Homo sapiens: one gene and its partners. The protein of the gene in region 2 interacts with the protein of the main gene of each other region in a pairwise test. Each region holds a gene or a part of one and is shown on either strand. Other genes may lie near its edges. The genes, in order: DYSF, DHX15 and PINX1.

Region 1 (3,742 bases), on a different chromosome or scaffold from region 2:
CAGTTCCACTGGCTACAGAAAGCGCACCCTGGGCAGGAAAGTCATCCTGGGGCTCAGCTTCTAAGGCACACCTCTTCCCCAAAATTGCTGGGGATGACCATGAGATGGTCTCTGCCTCAAGAGGATGCACATGCAACCAAGGACACTCTGGGGCCACAAGAACTCTCTCACTCCTCCCATGGGCCTCCTCGCCCATCTTCACACCAGCCAGCCAGGCACAGGCCAGCCAGACGGCCAAGGCCATCTTCCCCTCTGCTTTCATCTTGACACCTCAAAGTAGTAGCAGCAAGTGTTTCAGTGCCAAGGAAGGAGCTTTTTCATTTTAGAAGAACACCCAGACTGGGGCTGCTTTCCCCACATGCCACCCCACAGGTACTGACGCCAGGATGACCAGCCAGCGTTCCATCCAAAAGTCCTAACCTGGGGTCCCTGTGCCTCTCCCACATCAGCCCGAACAGCCCTGGGAAACCAAGATATACCCTACCCAAGCCAGGACAAGTGCAGCCCCACATACCAGGGCCCCCTCAAGGGCAAACACAGCTGCAGGCCCCGTCTTCTCCAGTGGCTCCATGCGACGGCGCCAGCGGCGGCGGCGGAAGGCATCTGTCTTGCGGTACTCGAGGTGGAACTTCCAGCCAAAAAGAGAGGCGTACTCCCAGCCCTCGCCCTCCGCCTCCGCCTGCCTGTGCTGCACAAGAGAAGGGGCAGACTCAGAGGCCGGTGGGAAGGCTGGGGGGAGTTCTGTGCTCGGCTCCACCTTTGCCTTCCTGTCTTCCATGACAACTCCCCACCAGCTCCCACACTAGTGCCCTCCAGGTGGGAAAACCTGGGAGGGCCACCTAGAGGAGAGGGGCTTTCTGCAGCCACAGGAACCCCAGGTCAGAAAATCAGGAGGGGAGGCCAGGCATGGTGGCTCATGTCTGTAATCCCAGCTACCAGGGAGGCTGAGGCAGGAGAATTGCTTGAACCTGGGAGGTGGAGGTTGCAGTGAGCCGAGATTGCGCCACTGCACTCAAGCCTGGGTGACAGAATGAGACTCCATCTCAAAAGGAAAAGAAAAAAAGAAAAAAGAAAAAGAAAAATCAGGAGGGGAGAGGAGGCTCCATGGGCTGCGGGAAGAACCAAACAGCCAGAAAGGAAGGTAGGCTGACGCAGTGACGAAAACACTGGGCTTTTAACTTGCTTATTTGTTTGAATTCTGGGTGGATTTCATGAATCCAAAGTTTTCTTGTCATTTCCTTTTTCATCTTCACATCCTGTAGTGGGTCTGCAGCTCAGAGGTAAAAGGAAGATCCTATTTCCCAACCACAGCCAATTTCACCCCTGGGAGCTAGACCCAACTCAGCTATGGAGGCACCCCTGTACCTCGTTCATGGGGTCCCTTTCCTGGGCCTGAAGGGAGTCCCGGGAGCCCCCTTGCCATTCAGCTCCTGGGAGAGGGTGACCTGGCACTGTTGTCAGACACCACCTCAGGTCTGGGCCAGGAGCACAGTGACAAGGGCCAGTCCTGGAGGCCAGCTGTGCCACTCTCCAGGAAGGATGCTGGCTGTGGGGTGGTGGGCAAGGCACATGAGCCTGGGCAGGCTTTGCCTCTGTCTGCTGGGTGCCCCTTCAGGGAGAAAGTTGAATCTGTCTGGTTCACAGCACCAGGAACAGCTGGTTGTCCAAAAGCCTTGCCCCTCCCTGGAGCCAGCAAGAGTCCTCTCTAGGTTCTCTGCCCCCAAGGAGAAAGGAAGGAACCTAGGTCATGCCACAGGCTACTCCTGGACTAAGGGAGGTCTGGTTCTTGAGCCAAAATTCAAATGTGTGTTTAGGAAGGAAGATCATAGACCAAGAAGGTCCAGGACAGGCGGGCACAGAGGCTGTGCAGTGCACAGGCCCCTGTGTGACCCCGGAGCAAGTGCATGTGCTTGCGTGTGCTCATCCATGTGCACGATGGGCCTGACAGTATCCCATGGCATCTGTGCTCAACTGTGGGCATGTGTGCTTGCATTGCATGAATGCCAACGGGGCCCACCCCAGCCCCCTCACCAGCCAATGTACACGTGTGGCGCACCCATCCCCAGCTGCCATCAGCATCGACAGCTCCCAGCTCCCAGAAGCCACCTGCTCCAGGGAACCCCCATGCTAAAGGAAACCCCCTCACTGAAGAGATAGGTATGTGCCCCAGCTCACCCCAGCAACCCCAAGCCTAGACAGATGGCTGAGAGGATACAAAGCCCAGCCCTGCCTCCAGGTGAGGATTCTGTGGTGTTCCGAGTTGTGAACTTCCCCAGGCCACAGCTCAGGCCACAGCTGACCTGCCTGAAGCTGCATCCTTGCTCCTCACACTCCCGAGGGCACTGCCCCAATAATGTGCAGCCAAATCTACGTCTTAGCTTCTGCCTCCAGGAAACCCAGCCTAAGACAAAGTCCATGGGTGTCTTTCCATCTTCCAGGTTGGTGTGTGAACTTTGCATGTGACCTTCTGTAATCATGGGCATCTGAGTGTGTCTGTCTATAAGCATCTGTGGGTGTGCTGGGTGTGATCTGTGCTGGGTGTGATCTGTGGGTGTGCTGGGTGTGATTTCTGTGTGCTGGGTGTGATCTGTGGGTGTGCTAGGTGTGATCTGTGCTGGTTGTGATCTGTGGGTGTGCTAGGTGTGATCTGTGCATGTGCTGGGTGTGATCTGTGCTGGGTGTGCTGGATGTAATCTGTGCTGGGTGTGCTGGGTGTGATCCATGCTGGGTGTGATCTGTGGGTGTGCTGGGTGTGATCTGTGCTGGGTATGATCTGTGGGTGTGCTGGGTATGATCTGTGGGTGTGCTGGGTGTGATCTGTGTGTGTGCTGGGTGTGATCTGTGGGTGTGCTAGGTGTAATGTGTGTGTGCTGAGTGTGATCTGTGCTGGGTGTGCTGGATGTGATCCATGCTCGGTGTGATCTGTGGGTGTGCTGGGTGTGATCTGTGTGTGATCTGTGCATGTGCTGGGTGTGATCTGTGTGTGTGCTGGGTGTGAGCTGTGTGTGCTGGGTGTGATCTGTGTGTGGTGGGTGTGATCTGTGCATGTGCTGGGTGTGATGTGTGTGTGCTGGGTGTGAGCTGTGTGTGCTGGGTGTGATCTGTGTGTGTGCTGGGTGTGATCTGTGTGTGCTGACTGTGATCTGTGTGTGTGCTGGGTGTGATCTGTGTGTGCTGACTGTGATCTGTGCATGTGCTGGGTGTGATCTGTGGGTGTGCTGGGTGTGATCTGTGTGTGATCTCTGCATGTGCTGGGTGTGATCTGTGTGTGTGCTGGGTGTGAGCTGTGTGTGCTGGGTGTGATCTGTGTGTGGTGGGTGTGATCTGTGCGTGTGCTGGGTGTGATGTGTGTGTGCTGGGTGTGAGCTGTGTGTGGTGGGTGTGATCTGTGCGTGCTGGGTGTGATGTGTGTGTGCTGGGTGTGATCTGTGTGTGTGCTGGGTGTGATCTGTGTGTGCTGACTGTGATCTGTGTGTGCTGGGTGTGATCTGTGTGTGCTGACTGTGATCTGTGCATGTGCTGGGTGTGATCTGTGGGTGTGCTGGGTGTGAGCTGTGCGTGTGCTGGGTGTGCTAGGTGTAATCTGTGTGTGCTAGGTGTGAACTGTGGGTGTGCTGCATGTGAACTGTGGGTGTGTTGGGTGTGATCTGTGTGTGCTGAGTGTGAACTGTGGGTGTGTTGGGTGTGATCTGTGTGTGTGTGCTGGGTGTGATCTTTGGGTGTGCTGGGTGTGATCTGTGCA
Region 2 (3,032 bases):
TGCCTGTCATAGAAAATGGAAGGTCAAATGTACATTTTAACACACTATACAAATTATTTTGTATACTGCATAAAACTTCCATCACTAAGAATTTTGTTAAACTGAGATCTAAAATATGCTTTCCTCTTACCTAATACTAATAAACGTGTTTGAGAAGCTAGAAGTATAATAAAAACATCTGACAAAAATGTAGTTAATAAATTATGAGCCTTATGAAAGGAACTCTAAGAAAGACAAGTAGAGAGCTCTCCTTTCATTATTCTCTCTTTTGGGGTCCAGTTTCAAATGATCACTACACACATTTTACCCCTTTTAGATCGATCACATCCTGATTAACCTAACAAAGCGCTAAGCCATGCTCTTAAAAATACTGCTTTAACAGCTACTTTTCCTAAGGAGTACTCCTGGTAGAAAGATACTAAATATGTAGTAACAGTATAATTATAATAATAAAAAAGCTCCACACTTGAAAAACAACTATACTTAGAGACTAGAACAAAGATACCAAAGGGCTTTGGCCAAAATTAGTATAAATAGACTTTATTGAAGTCAGTGCCTCTGTACTGAGACAGAAGATTGTGTCTACATAAGCACAAGTTGTAACATTTCACAACTTCTAAAAGGAATGTCAACAATTACAACGATCATGCATACCATGGTCGATAATCACATTTTAGAAGCATTTTCAACCATTTCTAAAGAAATGCTTATAACATTGTTATATATAGAACTACTTTCAATAAACTGCAAAACATTGATCGACTTTTCCAGTATGAGCTACAGTGTCAACACAAAAGGGAGGCATAAATGTTTAATTTATGAAATCAGAATGGAATATTTACTGTAAAGAAAAATTAAAAAGCTTTCAAATAAAGGCCATTATCGAACCAACGTGAAGAGCACAACTCGAACTTTTGAGTTCATTCATCTTTTAAAGCTGTCCTCTCAATAACTTCAGTTCTAAGCACTGAATTCAGTACTGTGAATATTCCTTGGATTGAAGTTTGGCAATGATGCGGTCCAACTGTCTCTTTGCTTCACACTGTGGGAAATTGCTCATGTCATAATATTGAGGGGCAATTTTCACCAACCTGTTTAGAAGTGGGCAGAAAAATTTCCAAATTAACATTTAATTGAAGTACTGGAGTTGTTAATAGGATAGGCATTATTCATTAATATACTGATGAACCAAGGCAAATCTATGAATTCAAGTCTCAGAAAAATACAAATAACTAATCCTTACAAATAGCACTTTTAGAAATGTGTTAAGTATTTTATTTAGTAAGATGTGAATTTTCTGATGTTGGACTTACCATAAACTTAATAACAAACCCCTCAAGATACATTAATGTAAAGATAACAGATAAAGTCACTGATTTCTTTACTCTGGCACACTATTAATTTGCCACTCCAAGGATATAGTAATATATAACAGGTTCTGTGTAGGAAACATCGTGGTATTCAAATGATTGGATCTTTTCATTTTCAATGTTTTAATAACTGTAACTCTATACCCCCAAAATACACTTGACTGAAATCTTTTATAAAGTTTAGCTATATAATTTTTTTCTCAACAAAGCGTTTAAGATAAAATGGTAATGTCCTACACAATTTAAGTGTCAAAAGTCCCAAATCCGTATAAGAAAGCAGCTGCACAATATAAAGCGGTGACAGCACCTAGAATATGTGCCTTCAGTCCCACTACTCTTGGCTGACATTTCCTGTCATAGGTTATAGAATAGATTCTGGCATAAATAAAACAAAAAACCATGAAGGTGAGGGTTATTTTGCTTAAAATAAAACAATCCGTTCTTACTCTACATTTTGTAGAAGCTAGTATGTTAAAACACAAAGAGCTATCATTTTTATGCCTGCACAGTTCCTAAAAACCAATATATAAATAATAAATAGTTGAGGGCTAATTGTAATGGGACAAAAAAAATGTTAAAAAACAAAACAAAACAAAAAAAAACAGATTTCTGCAAGCAAGAAACAGTACTGACTTGAGAATCACAACAGCAAGAGAATGGCTCCAAAGAAACTCTAAAAATTAAAAAAATTAAAAAAAAACCCTTTTTTAAAAGTATGTCTGAGAGACAGGGTCTCACTGTCACCCAGGCTGGAGTACAGTGGCATGATCATAGCTCACTGCAACCTCAAACTCCTGGGCTCAAGCAATCCTCCTGCCCAGCTTCCCCAGTAGCTGGGACTATAGACGTGCAGCACCACCATGCCCAGCTAATTTTTGTACACACCTATATATCTTTTAGTAGAGATGGATTCTGGCTATATTGCACAGGCTGGTCTTGAACCCCTGGCTTCAAGTGATCCTCCCATCCTGGCCTCCCAGAGTCCTGGGATTACAGGTGTGAGCCACCATGCCCAGCCCCTGAAGAAACTTTTCATGCTATTCAAATGTAACTTCACATTTGGCTTCAAATCCTGCCCATAAATATCAACAATCCCACTGTCCACTTAACAAAGGAAGGGTGTGAAAGATTAATCACACCATCCAGTCAATTCCCTCATACCTACACACTGAAATATAAATTCTCAATGAGTGAATGCAAGGCCATGACTCTAGCAACAGTCAGGTTCCATTTTGAGCAAAGTACTAACAAAAAACTGTTAGAACAAAAGGTGTACTTACCATTCTGGCTTGATATCTGTACATGTCCGGATGTAATTCTTTGTTGTTAGAACAAACTCATTATAAAGCACCCATTCAGGTTTGTGGTCAAGAACAGTAGAGGGATGCAACTGAACCACCTGGTTATCTTTCACAGTTAAGTAATGCCCTGTTCGTTCTAAATGTGCCACCTGAAACCAAAACCCAGTATATTATTAATACAATGCTTCTGACTTGCTAGTTGTAAAGCTACCTACATAATTAGGAAGAGGCAGGCCTCCCTTTTACTTTTCATTCTATGGCTATACTTATTTATCACTGTCTGATAAAAGCAGAGATAAGCAAACTGCTGCCTGTGGGCCAAATCCAACTCATAGCCTCTATTTGTAAGGTCTGTGAATCC
Region 3 (3,500 bases), on a different chromosome or scaffold from region 2:
GTTTCTCCATGTTGGTCAGGCTGGTCTCAAACTCCCGACCTCAGGTGATCCGCCCGCCTCAGCCTCCCAAAGTGCTGGTATTACACCGTGCCCAGCCAAGCTTACATTCTTATCTGTGTTTCTACTGAGTTCAACTGTGATCGTAAATATCAAGATGTTTTCTGTGTATAATTAGTAAGGAATAGTGTCCTTGAACTTTACTACTTCATAGATCCTGCATTTCCTAATATGAGTCATTCAGTATTTTCAGAAAACATTTTCCTTATCTTTTTCTTCTGCTAATAAATTATTGCCCTTCATATTAGGACCACACACAGAACTGTTAGGTTATTTCAAAATCATGATCCTATGGATAAGGAAAACTGTCCAAGTTATACATTCCAACAAAAAGTCCAATCTGGTTAGAAAAAATACCAACAAAGCACCTTTCCCTTCACACTGTTGGGCTCACTTCCACACACGTCACTGCAATAAACCTTCCTATGGTTAGATGTGTGCTGTGATTTTACCAGGTAATTACCAGCATATTCTGCTAGCTACCTCCAAGCAGGACTGTGTCTTATACCTCTGCAGATCCTCACACCTAAACTAGTACCCAGCACACAGCTCAATAAATGTTTGCTGAACTCAAGTCTAATTCATTATTTCACTCCACAAAATTCTTTCAATCTACCAAATATCTTTTGATTATTCACACATGACACACAAGGAATAGACTGTTCATAAACAAGAATGTTTATAAAAATGCTTGCAGATTACAACAAAATCCAATTAAAAAATGGGCAAAGTACTTAGACACTTCTTCAAAGAAGATATAAAAATGGCCAATAAGCGATGAAAAGATGCTTAACATCAGTCATTAGGGAAATGGAAATCCAAATCACAATGAGACATCATCTCACACCCATTAGGATGGCTATTATCAAAATTATAAAAGATAATTACTGGTTAGGATATGGAGAAATTGGAACTCTTATGCACTGTTGATGTAGCCACTACAGAAAACAGTACGGCAGCTCCTCAAAAAGTTAAAAATAGAACTACTATATGATCCAGCAATCCACTCCCAGGCATTACCCAAAGGAAAGGAAATCAGCATGTTGCAGAGGTACCTGCAAACCCACGTTCACTGCAGCACTATTCACAACAGCCAAGATATGGAATCAACCTAAGTGTCCACCAACACATGAACTGGGAAACATGTGGTGCATACACACCACGGAATACTATTTACCCTTACGAAAGAATGAGAGTTTTTCATTTGAGGCAACATGGTTGAGTTTGGAGGACATTAAGTGAAATAAGCCAGGCACAGATAAATATCACATATTCTCGTTCATATGGAAAAGCTAAAAGAGTTGAGCTCATAAAAGTAGACAGCAGAATAGTGGTTATTAGAGCTGCGTAAGGAAAACAGCTATGTAGGAACAGCTAAAGATTGGCTAATGGATATAAAAGTCCCACTACATAAGAGGAAAAAGCTCTAGTGTTCTATAGCACTGTAGGGTGACTATAATAAATAATATTTTATTTTATATTTTCAAATAGCTAGAAGAACAGATTTTAAATGCTCCCAACACAAATAATAAATGTCTGAAGTGATATATATGCTAATTACGTTGATGAACATAACACATGTGTACATTACAAATTGTGCACAGGTATTGACATATCACACTATACTCAATAAATATGTATAATTATGTGTCAACTAAAAATAATAAAAGCAAAAAACAAAAAGTAGATAAACATATTTGCATTGAGAACTTATGTCATCTGATTTCCCTACCTGTGGTTTCCTGCCCATGGCAAGTGTTCAGTTCGGCCAGAAGCTGGTTAAAATCATCCTGATGGGCAATCCAGTTGTCCTGAAAATATCAAAGAAATGAACGAGAGGTAAGCCTGTAGTTTACTTACACTGACTGAGATGATACATTTTGGAATCAAGGAAATCCAGTGGTTAATTAAGAAATTTTAAATGTTCCATCAAAATACTATTTGATAAATTTAAGTGGATTCAAGAAATAATATAAAGTTAAAATGCTCTTTATCCAGGTCAATATTAAAAAGGGGCTTCCTGGAAGCTTAAGGCCTGATTTCAAATGTGAATGACTTATCGATCAAGTCAATATATAGTAAATAATCAACAGGCAACCTGTGTGCTAAATGTTAAAGTAAAACATAATGAAATGACTATTTTTTTCTCACTAGGGGAAATTCCATAGTTGAAAGGACAAGAACCATGCGGGACAAAAAAATGCTCTTCTTTGCTTGGTAGAATTAAAATCTTCTAATGACTTGCATCAACTCCAATTTTACAAAACTCTGAGGAAGGGGAGGAGGAAGAACCTTAAGTCCCCTGAATCGATGAGTTCCCATTTGTAAGGTGGTTACCTAATAAGTTTATTATAAAAAAATGAACCTGGCTTTTATAAGAGAATGAAGATCTCCCAAACCAGTGGGAAGCAGGGTTTCAGTGTACGAATCTGCCTTACTCACATTCTTAGCAATTTTTAAGAATGCTTAAGGTAAAGGAATATGAAATAGGTTTACTGGGCAATGCTTCTTCTAAGAAAATAAGTATATCTGTGTTATCTATCCCTCAACAACTACATTTGAAATCAACTTTATATAAACTCTTTCTTTAGTGGCTAAAAATTTTAGCTCCGCCAATCCACTACTCAGAGATACGGAACTAACCAAAGTAATTCAATTTACCTAAAGTAATTTCCCAGATTCCCTACCAGATTATGTTGGCTGCAAAAACTTAGAAACAAAACTTTTCAGTTTAGATCCTTTCCAAAAGGGAACAATGATACTAAAAATAAAAAGCGCGGTAGGCCACTGACTCTGAGTTATAGTGCCATGCATTCAAAGCGTCAGTGTTCAAGAGGAAACGTGAATAAAAAGAAGTGCTGCACCAATGGTCAGAAGCAGATGAACCAATCAACTTTCAGATTTACAAGACTGAAGCCAATTATGCAAAGACACCCAGGAGGCACACACTGCTGCTCACTTCATTATTGATGGTAGCTCCGAGTCCCAGGTGGTTATTTTTCACTTGAACTTTAATATGATCTGTGGCTCCTTGCTCCTGAGCCCCTAAACCCTGTGGAGATTAAACACAGAGAGTTAGAACATTCCTCTCACTGATACTCAGAAGCAGAGCACTGCTACAAAACTCACAGATGCCTACGGCAGGTGTTCTGAGTTGATGATTCTCTCCATTAAATACTTTCACAAAGCAACATGGGGGAGGACTCTAAGTCCTCTGCATCAATTAGCACTCATCTGTAAGATTTTCCAGGTAAGGAAAGATCAAGTGCAAAGACCCGAAGGTGGGAAAAAACTCAGTGTACTGGGAAACCTCAGAGGCACCCAGGGTGGCTTCTGCAAATTAAGGAATGAAGGAAGTAGGATGACGGAGGGGCTAGATCTCACATAACCTACGGGAGGAATTTGGATTTTATTTTAAAGACAATGGAAAACCACTGGTCTTT

Evidence for each region.
Region 1: the proteins of DHX15 (region 2) and DYSF interact in a two-hybrid assay, tested with the Homo sapiens proteins (one large-scale study listed by BioGRID and IntAct).
Region 3: the proteins of DHX15 (region 2) and PINX1 interact in a two-hybrid assay, tested with the Homo sapiens proteins (one large-scale study listed by BioGRID and IntAct).

Annotation. Positions count from the first base shown.
Region 1 is NC_000002.12:71,571,144-71,574,885, reverse strand, and holds part of DYSF (dysferlin), read right to left. Parts: intron 689-3,742; coding exon 515-688; intron 1-514. UniProt on the Homo sapiens protein: Key calcium ion sensor involved in the Ca(2+)-triggered synaptic vesicle-plasma membrane fusion.
Region 2 is NC_000004.12:24,526,951-24,529,982, forward strand, and holds the end of DHX15 (ATP-dependent RNA helicase DHX15), read right to left. Parts: intron 2,821-3,032; coding exon 2,651-2,820; intron 1,092-2,650; coding exon 974-1,091; 3' UTR 525-973; downstream 1-524.
Region 3 is NC_000008.11:10,829,876-10,833,375, forward strand, and holds part of PINX1 (PIN2/TERF1-interacting telomerase inhibitor 1), read right to left. Parts: intron 3,110-3,500; coding exon 3,017-3,109; intron 1,869-3,016; coding exon 1,790-1,868; intron 1-1,789. UniProt on the Homo sapiens protein: Microtubule-binding protein essential for faithful chromosome segregation. Mediates TRF1 and TERT accumulation in nucleolus and enhances TRF1 binding to telomeres. Inhibits telomerase activity. May inhibit cell proliferation and act as tumor suppressor.